Homo sapiens: one gene and its partner. Each later gene encodes a partner of the first gene's protein in a complex. Each region holds a gene or a part of one and is shown in the gene's direction. Other genes may lie near its edges. The genes, in order: XRCC1 and APLF.

Region 1 (7,259 bases):
ATTTCTGTACTCTCTTCTCTGTTCCATTGATATGTATAGTTTTCTTTATGCCAATACCAAACTGTCTCTTTTTTTAACCATATTATTTATTTATGTATATATGTATTTATTTATTTATTTATTTATTTATTTGAGATGGGGGTCTCACTCTGTTGCTCAGGTTGGAGTACAGTGGCATGATCTCAGCTCACTGCAACCTCTGCCTCCTGGGCTCAAGTGATCCTCCCGCCTCAGCCCCCCAAGTAGCTAGTGGGAGCCATCATGCCCGGCTAATTTTTAAATATTTTTTGTAGAAATAGGGTTTCACTGTGTTGCCCAGGCTGGTCTTGAACTCCTGAGGTCAGGTGATCCACCTGCTGCGGCCTCCCAAAGTGCTAGGATTACACATGTGAGCTGCTGTGTGTACCTGGCCTACTCTTTTTTTTTTGAAACGAGGTCTCACTTTGTCACCCAGGCTGGAGTGCAGTGGCACGATCTCAGCTCACTGCAGCCTTGTCCTCCCGGGTTCAAGTGATCCTCCTTCCACAGCCCCTCAAGTAGCTGGGACTACAGGCTTGCACCACCATGCCCAACTTTGCACTAGTCAGTGTGACAAGGTGAGAAAAAGAAAAAAGAAAACTATCTTTTTTCACAGATGGCATGATTGTCTATGCAGAAAATCCCAAGAGATCTAGACAAACTACAAGGTTTAGTAAGTGAAGGTCACAAGATGAGAAGTCAATATACAAAATAAACTGTATATTACACATCACTTCTGTGGTATTCTGGCCAAAGTGTGCAACCTAAATTAATCACAAGGAAACATCAGATACTTTGTACAATAAGTGATATCTGACAAAAATCACTGACCTCTACTCTTCAAAAACATCAAAGGCACAAACCCAAAGTCACAGGAGCCTTCCTTCCTTCCATTCTCCCTCCCCTCCTTCCCTCCCTCCTTCCTTTTTTTTTTTTTTTTTTTTTTTTTTTGAGATGGAATTTTGCTCCTGTTGCCCAGGCTGGAGTGCAGTGGTGCAATCTCGGTTCACTGCAACCTCCGCCTCCCAGGTACAAACGATTCTCCATCTTAGCCTCCCAAGTAGCTCGGATTACAGGCCTGTGCCACCATGCATGGCTATTTTTTTTGTATTTAGTAGGACAGGGTTTTCCCATGTTAGTCACCAGATGATAAATGCAGCTTCCCTGTCAGCTCCAAATCAGGCCTTTTATAAACAAGTATAGTCAAGGTCAGGAAGAAAACTTCCCTTCTGTATAATTGTCTTTCTTGTTTCCTTTGCATAATCAGCTGTGCACAAAGAGAGCTATAGTTATGTTCTGTTTTTCTCAGCAAAAGGCTTTATTGTCCAATTTTATAATTTCACAGCATGTCAGTTAGAAAAGAGACTAAGTCAGTAACAAAATATACCCAACCAAAAGTGGCTGCATTCATCTTTTTTTTTTTTTTTTTTTTTTTTGAGACGGAGTCTCGCTCTATTGCCAGGCTGGAGTGCAGTGGCGCAATCTTGGCTCACTGCAACCTCCGCCTCCTGGGTTCAAGTGATTCTCCTGCCTCAGCCTCCCGAGTAGCTGGGACTACAGGCACGCGCCACCATGCCCAGCTAATTTTTTTGTATTTTTAGTAGAGATGGGGTTTCACTATGTTGGCCAGGATGGTCTCGATCTCCTGACCTCGTGATTTGCCTGCTTTGGCCTCCCAAAGTGCTGGGATTACAGGTGTGAGCCACTGTGCCCAGTCTTTTTGTTTCGTTTTTTGTTTTTTGGCAGAGTCTTGCTCCGTCACCCAGGCTGGAATGCAGTGGCACAATCTCGGCTCACCATCACCTCCAACTCCTGGGTTCAAGCGATTCTTGTGCCTCAGCCTCTCGAGTAGCTGGGATTATAGGTGCCTACCACCATGTCCAGCTAATTTTTGTATTTTTAGTAAAGACGGTGTTTCACCATGTTGGCTAGGCTGGTCTTGAACTCCTGGCCTCTTGTCCACCAGGCTTAAGTGCAATGGTGCGATCTCAGCTCACTGCAACCTCCGCCTCCTGGGTTCAAGCAATTCTCGTGCCTCAGCCTCCCGAGTAGCTGGGACAACAGGCGTCTGCCACCATGCCTGGCTTAAATTTTGTATTTTTAGTAGAGATGGGGTTTTACCATGTTGGCCAGGCTGGTATTGAACTCCTAACCTCAAATGATCCGCCTGCCTTGGCCTCCCAAAGTGCTGGGATTACAGGCGTGAGCCACCGCGCCTGGCCTCAGCTTGGGTTTTTCAATGCAGATTGCTAACATGAATTGCTACTCTCAATTCCTTGAGAGAACAGACTTGTGAGGAGTTCTCCCGAGAAGAATTTTCACCTCTTCTTTGGTGTCCCCCCAAGCTAAGGCCAAGACAGACAGGCCTCCCAGGGACTCTTTCCACAGGCTTATTTCCCCTTCATGTAACTAGTGTGGGCGTTGCCTTTGGGGAGTCCTCAGTTCTATGCAGTGTGGTGAGGATCTCTGAGATGCCACTCTCCCTTGCTTGGAGCCTAGGTTTTCTCTCTTGTTCTCTTTCACCACCACGTGCATAACCCTTAAAGATCAAGTTCTAGCTGGGTGTGGTGGCTTACACTTGTACTTCTATAGCTTTGGGAGGCTGAGGTGAGAGGATCATTTGAGGCCAGGAGTTCAGGACCAGCCTGGGCAACATAGCAAGACCATGCCTCTACAAAAAATAAAAAATTAGCCAGGTGTGGTGTCGTGCATCTCTAGACCCAGCTACTCAGAGGCCAAGGTGGGAGAATCACTTGAGACCCAGAGGTCGAGGCTGCAGTGAGCTATGATCGCACCACTGTGCTCCAGCCTGGGTGACAGAGAAAGACCCTGTCTCTTAAAAAAATAATAATAATAAATAAAATCAAGTTATTTGCTATCTGGGATCAGCACCATGACAAACTACCAACATGAGTGCTGCCGGGTCAGTCAGGGTCCTTGCCCGGAGATTAAAACCACACCAGTTATTTTAACAGATAATTTGATAGAAAGAACCAGTAACTAGGTGTTACTAGAAGACTAAGATATGAGGGAGAAGCAACCGCAGGGAGTAGCTACCACTCCCAGGGTTGGGGGAACAAAAGAAAGGAGCAGGAATTATTGAAACGTAGATGTTTGGAAACTGGGAGGTGGGGCTCCAGGAGCTGAAATTCAGATCGTTTGAGGAGGGCTTCCTCCCCCACCGGCTGCTGAGAGGGGCTGAATGAGGCTGTTTCTGGAGGTATTGGGACACTGCAAACTGGATTCATCTGCTGCTGCAGGCAGGAACCACTGCAGCAGCAGAAGCTTAACTGGGGGTGATGCTCACAGGATCTGCAATGCACGAGAAGCTGGTCCTTCCTCCCTCCTGCAGCCTTGCAAACTCTCTCTCTTGCCCCCCCTATTGGCAGAGCCTGGTCACGATCAGCTAGGGAAGCAGAAAGGTGGTTTGCCAAGTGCGGGCCCAGATCACAGAGATGAGTTGTAGAGGGTAGGTTTGAGCTGAGAAACAATCACTTAATACTTAGTGCAGCTCGCCTGACTCTCTGGATTCTGTTTTCTCATTTCCAGCCTCTAGTAATTCCCCTTGCCTTTCCGCTGACTCACCTGTGCATTTCCAAAAGGTGTTTGAATATTGTGCCAGTTTACTGAATATTCTCTGCCGGGAAAGTTCCTTAGGACATGTAGCCCGCTGTATTGCCAGATATGGAAGACTCCATGGGAGAATTTAGATAAGGGTCGCTCACATCTGGAGGATAAAGAGATCCCTCTGGGGCCTGTGTCAGGGCAGGACTGACTCAAGGCCTAGAAACAAAGGGTCTGGAGACATCTAGGCCCAAGCTACATTCTAGTGACTCCCAGTCCCCTGTGTGGGCCCTGTGCCCTCTTCCCCAGCCCCTAGAAGCTCTCATCTAAGCCAACCTGCCCTGGTTCTCATGCACTGTGGCTTCTCCCACCCAGGTCCTTCTGGTCACCTCATCTTTCATGTCCCCTTCCGAGAGCCGCAGTGGCTCAAACCCCAACCGCGTTCGCATGTTTGGGCCTGACAAGCTGGTCCGGGCAGCCGCCGAGAAGCGCTGGGACCGGGTCAAAATTGTTTGCAGCCAGCCCTACAGCAAGGTACCTAGGGTGGGAGCCAGGGTGCAGAGTCCTTGGTCCTGGGCAAGGAGGGAAATAAGGGCCAATATTGAGTCCCATAGGGCTGGGAGGAGTAGACAGCTGGTGTCCCATGGGATTATGGGGAGGCTGGGTCCCTGCGTTCCCTGAAATGGGTTTGGGATCTTTCCTGTAATGAGAAGTTTCATCTCCCGGAGGAATCTAGGAAGGGTGAACTGCAGCATCTCAGAGGGGAATCGGAGGAGGGGAACTGACTTGTTAGAGAGGTGGCCTAGTAGAGTGGGCCTAGTAGTTAACATCAGGAGATCTGGCGTCTGATTACTGAGTTCACGTCCTGGCTATACCACTTTTTAGCTGTGTGATCTTGGGCAAGTGACTTACGCTCTCTGGGCCTCCATTGCCTGATCCTTACAGGGTTGCTGTAGGTTAAGGGATGCTAAAAGCTGTGGTAACAGTGAGACTGGAGTATGTGATGATGCCACACACTAAAGGTGTGCTTCTTGCCCAGGTAACTGTCCTGGGGAGTGTTTAGCCTGTCAGCTGGCTTCTCCTTATGAGGTCGTGCAGGGACCCAGACTTCTCCTATTTTCTGGCTCTGCATCCAGCTGGCAGAGGAGAGAGCCTGGAACACTTCTGTGTTCTGGAAGTGGCACGCAGCACTCCCTCCCATTCCACAGGCAGGAGTTTGTGCATAGGGCAGTGAATTCGCTGGGACACCTAGTAGACTCTGCCAATTGCCCAAAGAGCTAATGCGTGAAAAGGGCTTGGAGCCAGACTCAGAGTTAGGGCTCAGTCATAACAGCTTAATCCTATAATTGTCATCACCATCGCCAGGGCCCCTCCTTCAACATGGGTGTTCATGAGAGGGAAGGAGCCAGGAAGAGGTTTCCCTGAGTGAAAAGGGTCTTGGGCCCTGGCCTCTGTCCTTGGGCCAGACTCCCTGACTCCCACCCCTCCTTTCCCAGGACTCCCCCTTTGGCTTGAGTTTTGTACGGTTTCATAGCCCCCCAGACAAAGATGAGGCAGAGGCCCCGTCCCAGGTAAGCTGTACCTGTCACTCCCCATGGCCTTCTCCCTGCCTCTCCACCCCCACCTGCCAGCAGCCCACCTATAATACTGACCTTGCGGGACCTTAGAAGGTGACAGTGACCAAGCTTGGCCAGTTCCGTGTGAAGGAGGAGGATGAGAGCGCCAACTCTCTGAGGCCGGGGGCTCTCTTCTTCAGCCGGATCAACAAGACATCCCCAGGTGAGCTCGGACAACGTGGGTCCTGAGTGAGTAGGGTTGAGACCTAGACTCGTGGGTCTGAGGGTAGAGGGGGCTGGGGCTCAGATTCCTGGGTCTGAGGGAGGAGGGTAGTGGAGTCCTGGACTCCTGGGTCTCAGGGTGGAGGAAGGTGGGCCTGGCCTCTTGTGTCCTGAGGGTTGAGAGGTCTGGAGGCTGGGACTCCTGGATCACTGGTGGGTTTTGGCAACAATATTCTGTGTCCCATAGATAGGAGTGAAAGGGTCTTGGGGCTCAGCCCTCTCATCCTGGATCCACTTTCTCCCTTCATAGTCACAGCCAGCGACCCAGCAGGACCTAGCTATGCAGCTGCTACCCTCCAGGCTTCTAGTGCTGCCTCCTCAGCCTCTCCAGTCTCCAGGGCCATAGGCAGCACCTCCAAGGTGAAATCATCAGACTTTGGTGGGGTGGAGGAGGAGAGAAGCTGGAGGCCTCAATCCATCCCCATCCCCTCAGCCCCAGGAGTCTCCCAAAGGGAAGAGGAAGTTGGATTTGAACCAAGAAGAAAAGAAGACCCCCAGCAAACCACCAGCCCAGCTGTCGCCATCTGTTCCCAAGAGACCTAAATGTGAGCTAACTAGATCCCTTGTTTCCACAGGGGCCTGTGCTCCTGTGTCCTAGGGGAAGCGGGGCTGGAGCCTGCTGTCCTGAATCTGAGGGAGGAAGGGCTGGGGGCCTGGACCCCTGGGTCTGAGGGAGGAGGGGCTGGGGGCCTGGATTCCTGAATCCGAGGGAGGAGGGGCTGAGGGCCTAAACCCCTGGGTCTGAGGGAGGAGGGGCTGGGAGCCTGGACCCCTGGGTCTGAGAGAGGAGGGGTTGGGGGCCTGGATCCCTGGGTCTGAGGGAGGAGGGGCTGGGGGCCTGGACTCCTGGGCCTGAGGGAGGAGGGGCTGGGGGCCTGGACTCCTGGGTCTGAGGGAGGAGGGGCTGGGGGCCTGGACCCCTGGGTCTGAGGGGGGAGGGGCTGGGGCCTGGATTGCTGGGTCTGAGGGAGGAGGGTCTGGGGCCTGGACTGCTGGGTCTGAGGGAGGAGGGGCTGGGGGTTGACCCCCAGTGGTGCTAACCTAATCTACTCTTTGTCTTCTCCAGTGCCAGCTCCAACTCGTACCCCAGCCACAGCCCCAGTCCCTGCCCGAGCACAGGGGGCAGTGACAGGCAAACCCCGAGGAGAAGGCACCGAGCCCAGACGACCCCGAGCTGGCCCAGAGGAGCTGGGGAAGATCCTTCAGGGTGTGGTAGTGGTGCTGAGTGGCTTCCAGAACCCCTTCCGCTCCGAGCTGCGAGATAAGGCCCTAGAGCTTGGGGCCAAGTATCGGCCAGACTGGACCCGGGACAGCACGCACCTCATGTAGGCTTGCGCCCCCCTCCCTGCGCCGCTGCAGTTTCTCCCCCAGCTCCCTGTGTCTCCTCCACCTTGTGCTTTCTCTGTGTCCACTATGCTGCATGCTTTCTCTCTCTCTCACTTGCTTTCTTTCTCACTGCATTCTGTAGCCTTTGTCTTCTCTCTGATTTTTGCATCTCTCCCTTGGTCTCCAACCTCTTTTTGTTTCTCCCACCTCAATCTCATGATCTGTCTGTCTGTCTGTCTCTCTCTCTCTCTGTCTGTCTCCCCTGTCTCGTTCCCCTTTGCCCCTCAGATCACACCTAACTGGCATCTTCACTTCTGCCCCCCACCAGCTGTGCCTTTGCCAACACCCCCAAGTACAGCCAGGTCCTAGGCCTGGGAGGCCGCATCGTGCGTAAGGAGTGGGTGCTGGACTGTCACCGCATGCGTCGGCGGCTGCCCTCCCAGAGGTAAGGCCTCACACGCCAACCCTGCTCCTTATCCTGTGCTGGGCAATGCCAGGAATCTGGAGGGGAGT
Region 2 (5,337 bases), on another chromosome or scaffold:
TTTTTTTTGTGAAGAATAGACTAGAATGGAAGCAAGAGAGCCAGTTAGGAGGATATTGTATTCAGGAAGAAAATGATAGTATTGGGGCCAGGGCATTAGAGTGGATGTGATCAGAAGTGGTGGATTTACTTTGCAGGTAAAGCTAACAGGATCTCTTGAGGTATTAGATGTTGGGTTCTCGGTGAGGGATATTAAAGGATGACTACAAGATTTCTTGCTAAAACAACTAGATGGTTGGATGATTAGAGAAGTCATATATTCAAGACTGATAAATAGAATGACCAGATCTGGGTAAAGCAACTAAAGAGTTATGTTCTGGAAATGTTATATTCCAGGTGCCTGTAAGTCATCCAAGTACAGATAATGCTTAAGTATCCAGATAAATGAGTCTGGAATTCAGGGCAGTAGGTCAGGGCTTAAGATGTGAATTTGGGAATTTAGGACATAAGACTGGATGGAATCATCTAAGGAGTGAGTTAGAGAAGAGGTTCCAGCTCTAAAATTTAGAGATTAGGATGATGAGGAAAATCCAGCAAAGAAAACTGAGAAGGAGCAGCCAATGAAGTGAGCAGAGAACCTGGAGTTGTTTCACCTTTATATCTGTTTTTCTTGTAAAGCTGGTAAGTGATTTCTGAATCTGAAAGGAAACTGTTTATTGAGATATCATTAGGACATGTTATGTGATAATGTGCATTCACATCTTAGAAAAAAAAGTTATGTGTATAAGGTATTTCCAAGAGGAAAATAGACAAAAATAGAGATATTGATGTTCTTTCCTTCTCATTCCCTTTCCCGACTGCAAACTGCCTTCCAATTTTTAAAAAATGCATTTTATTATTTTAAAAATATGGGTAACTGAGATTAGACATAAAACATGCCCTCAAGATGTTTACAGGAGCTGTATATACAGATATATGTAATGCAAGATTTTCCTTAAGGAACTGGTGAGCTTCCTACTATAATGATAATTGGGCAAGTTATTATATTGCCTTTTTAGCCTTGGCTACCAAGAATCTTGGGGATAAATTTGATGCTCTATTTTTAATAATTGTGTTAAAAATTGAGGTTATCATATGTGTATTCTGCTTTTTATGTTTTTGGTTTCTACCTTTATTAGCATTTTATTATTATAAGCTGTCTCAAATCCTTTCTGGAATGCGTACTGATATTAAGAAAAATATAAATATATTGGGCTATAAGGGTTAAAAGGACAGATACATTACTTCCTTTGTCATTTTTCTCATTTTTCCCAATTCATTGACTTTATTTTTAAAATTATAACTATATGTTGCATGTGAACATTTTAGAAAGATGTTAACCAAAGTGTATACTAAAGTACAGACATTAATGTTTTTAACCTATACATTTGCTGTTCATTAGGGACTGTCCTCTGCCATTCAGATTTCTAGATGAAATCTTCCTAATTGTTTCTTAAATGTTCCACACTGTCCTAGAGTCTTTCACTGCTTTATTTTAAAGCAACTCTGTAGCTCGCTGTGGAAAGAGTAAGATCGGGGAAGAAATGAATTTGGAGACAGAAGAATTCTAGTATTATAATATTACTTAGAAATCTGTAAATTCTAATGTCTATTATTATGGCATTCCTAGTCTTACTGAAACATGAACTGTAAGAATATCTTAGACCTATAAAACTAAACTTTCCAAAGTATCTAAGCTCACGCCCTGATGTGTCAGCAAGCTTTTGCTAGGTTTGCTGTGATAACAAACATTTCTAAATTTCAGTGCCTTATAACAATAAATACACTTATTTAAGTGTATTTCTCCTTATTGCAGCTGTGAATTGGCTGTGGCCCTGTGCCATGTGTATTCTCATCTTGGAATCCAGGCTGAGGGATCAGCCTCTATCTGGGACATGCTGTTCTTGTGGCAGAGGGGAAATGGCAATAGCAGAACCAGAGAAAGAGTCTTAAAGCATCCTTTTGGAAGTGACACACACTATTTCCACTCACATTTCTTTGAGCAATCACTGAGAAGTGAGGAAGTATAATCATATCACAGGAAGGGGCAGTGAATAATTGGGACAAAAATACATTCTACCACATGGGAAGATGGGATGTTGTGAATATGATTATGAGATTAAGGAACCATTATTATTAATCTCATGGGTCATTTTAGTTTCAGGAGCCTCATGGTAGGAAAAGTTAGAATAATAAATAACAAAGCATCATTTTAGTGCCGTTTCCAGAAATTTGTAGTGGTAAGCTATGCATTAATAAAATTAATCCTCTGGATGCAGAAAGACATTTTATAGGTAGATGTCTGTCATCCCAGGTTGAGTGGTGATTGATGTGTTGTGTACCAATCTTCTGTTTTGCAGTGAGAAATGTTTTAGATGAAGATAATGATAATGTTGGGCAACCCAATGAGTATGACCTGAACGACAGCTTTCTAGATGATGAGGAAGAAGACTATGAGCCAACAGATGAAGATTCTGACTGGGAACCAGGAAAGGAAGATGAAGAGAAGGAAGATGTGGAAGAGCTTTTGAAAGAAGCAAAAAGGTTTATGAAAAGAAAATAGTAACTAACTTCTGTAGTCATATCTGCCTTACATTTACTTTTTCTTTGTGGGAAAACATTTATGAACTAAGGAGGTACTTAAGTGACAGTTATTTTCCTTCTTTTGATAGTTAATGACTTTTACTACTGACTCTTTACAAATGAGACATTGAAACGTCAGCCTTCAGTATAATAGATGGAATTTTTTGTTGCCTTGCCTTTTCTTTCCTACTTAAAGCATCTGGAAATAGGAAGACAGAGAAGGTAGAGTAAAAATGGATATTTTTTATGTACTTTGTATATTGGTAATAAAAAGTAAAAGCCATAGGTTGCATAAAACTTTGGTCTTTTTAAATTTTTTTCCAAAGATTATGGAGTACTCTGCAAGTATAACCAGGCAAAGTACATGAAAACATGCCTCTTTTCATTGTTACTGAAGTAATTCTGTAAGCAGAACCAGGCTTTAAAAAATGCAGCCATTACATAATGGCGTTTTTTTTCTAGTACCTTAGATGTGAGCTTTGCAATTTCACTTACTACTTTTATCCTTCAAAACTTGGGAAGATTGGTTCCAAATGGGTACTGAAAATAGATTCAACTAGGCTGTAGAAGAGAAATGTTCACCATGTAGGGAATGTTATTTTGTGTTCCACATCTGCAATTTACTGTATGTTTGAATTTAAAAGTAAAAAAACTCAAAAAACTTGACCTTTTTTTTCAAACTAAAGTCCTAGCTGATTATTTTAACTCTCAGTGTGCTGTCTTTATATTAAGAATAGAGAAACGACATAACTTTCTCAAATGGCATTAGTTTTGCCTTAGTTTTTTTGACCTCAGATGAAAGTAGCAAGTTGTTTGCCAGTTGAAAGTTCAAGATTCTGGCCTCCCATATCAAGAAGAAACCACTTATTCTCCAGTTTTACAAAGTATCTTTCTGTATTTCTGTTCTAAAACTACTTTAAGCCCTATAATGCTCTTCATATTACGTGACTTTGAATTGTTAAAATGTAGTTTAGAATCTTTAATAACAGTTGGGTTGTGTACACAGAGCAGGAGATATTTATTGAAATCATAAATCACTAAGCCAAAAGAATCTTTGTTAAATGCTATTATTTTCTACTCTAAAGGAACCTAAAAATTTATATCTTAAAAGATCAAAACATATTTATAATAATATTTTCTCATTGCTTTAAAATATATCTCCCAGTAATTATACAATATTTAATATTTACTTAAACTGGAACAAGAATAAGATAAACATTTCTCTAGACTATAACCTATTATTCTGATTTTTATCTCTTATTGTTATTTGGGAACTATTTTTCCCCTTATAATGTCCCTTTAGCCTTGGTAGTATAACAAATCTACGAATGTAATATTTAACTTATTCTCATCCCTGCCACTAACTTAATCCTTGAAGTGTTACATAATCTACTCCTAGGTATATACCCAGAGGAATTGAAAACATTTCCACATAAAAACTGTACACAATGTCAATAGAAGCATTATTCTTAACAGCCAAAAAGTATAAACACCCAAAGTCTATCAACTATCAACTGGGTGAATGGATAAGCAAAACGTGGTATATCTGTGCAATGGAATATTATTTGGTCATAAAAAGGAATAAAGTACTGATACATGCTACAAGATAGATGAACCTTGAAGGCAAGTAAAAGAAGCCAGACACAAAAGGCCACATACTGTATGAACTCATTTATATGAAATTTCCAAAACAGGCAAATCCATAAAGACAGAAAGCAAATTTGTGGTTGCCAGGGACTTGGGGAGGAAGAATGGGGAGTGACTGCTAATGAGTATAGGATTTCCTTTTGAGTGATAAAAATGTTCTAAGATTAGATGGCAGTGATGGTTGCACAACTCTGTAAATATATTACAAACAATGCATTGTACACTTTCAAAGGGTAGATTTCATTGCACGTGAACTATATATTTCAATAAATCTGTCACAAAAAAGTAATGCAAAGGGTAATACCAGTCTTTTAGAAGGAAAAAAATATTTAATATCAAAGGATATTCTTCGTAGTAATGTAATAGTTCATGGTAGCTGCTTTTAACGATACAGTTTTAATGCAACTTTCATAATCATCCTGAAGACACTTTTGAGTATAACTATTGTATAAATAAATGTATAGCTTAATTGACTGAAGTGTAATGAAAATGAAAGTGTAATTGGACTGTGTTTAGATCTGTGTTTTCCAAAACAGAGGGAAAACCGGTAACATTAGGCTGTCAGTGGTCTCAAGAGCACCATTAACAAAGCTTGATTTTTTAAATTAATTGCTGTTCTATACAGTGGATAAGAGCCAATTCTCCCTGTCATGGTGTTCCTGGAACTGAAACTATATCCCAGCCTCCTCTGTCATGGTAAAAATTATCATATATACATTTCTCACCTATGTGCCTAATTTTAAAAGCAAATATTTTCTGGCTAAACTTTTGAGGGGGGATGGGTTTTCTAGGACCCTGGGAAACTGGAGACCTGAAGAGTTTTGGGGGACACTTGAACACTGACTTTGGTGTTTTCCCCTGGTTGAGGATGGCCCTATTGATACTGAGTTTCTAGAACTAGAGGATCCTAAACATTCATTGTAATGAAAGCAGATAGATTGTGAGCATAATTACTCCAGAATGTTGATGTAAAGCTGAGAGTAAATGGGTAGTTTCTTACAACTAATTGTTCAGTGTCACCAGCACACCTCACTGAGGGGGAAACTGTCCACCAGCACGCTGCATCCAGCCCTGCTCTGTGAGACCACCTCATTCCCATTCAGTCTCTTTGTTGGCCAGGAGTCCATAA

Evidence for each region.
Region 2: the proteins of XRCC1 (region 1) and APLF are in contact, whole or in part, in a crystal structure (PDB 5W7X), measured with the Homo sapiens proteins. Residues at the interface, in NP_006288.2 of Homo sapiens: Pro514, Tyr515, Ala516, Gly517, Ser518, Thr519, Asp520; in NP_775816.1 of Homo sapiens: Arg27, Gly28, Pro29, Gly32, Ile33, Thr34, Lys36, Arg37, Val38, Ser39, Arg40, Arg41, His58, Asn60.

What each region holds. Positions count from the first base shown.
Region 1 is NC_000019.10:43,551,503-43,558,761, reverse strand, and holds part of XRCC1 (DNA repair protein XRCC1), read left to right. Parts: intron 1-3,957; coding exon 3,958-4,116; intron 4,117-5,078; coding exon 5,079-5,153; intron 5,154-5,249; coding exon 5,250-5,361; intron 5,362-5,670; coding exon 5,671-5,780; intron 5,781-5,853; coding exon 5,854-5,965; intron 5,966-6,486; coding exon 6,487-6,745; intron 6,746-7,074; coding exon 7,075-7,191; intron 7,192-7,259. UniProt on the Homo sapiens protein: Scaffold protein involved in DNA single-strand break repair by mediating the assembly of DNA break repair protein complexes. Negatively regulates ADP-ribosyltransferase activity of PARP1 during base-excision repair in order to prevent excessive PARP1 activity.
Region 2 is NC_000002.12:68,575,482-68,580,818, forward strand, and holds the end of APLF (aprataxin and PNK-like factor), read left to right. Parts: intron 1-2,338; coding exon 2,339-2,541; 3' UTR 2,542-4,681; downstream 4,682-5,337. UniProt on the Homo sapiens protein: Histone chaperone involved in single-strand and double-strand DNA break repair.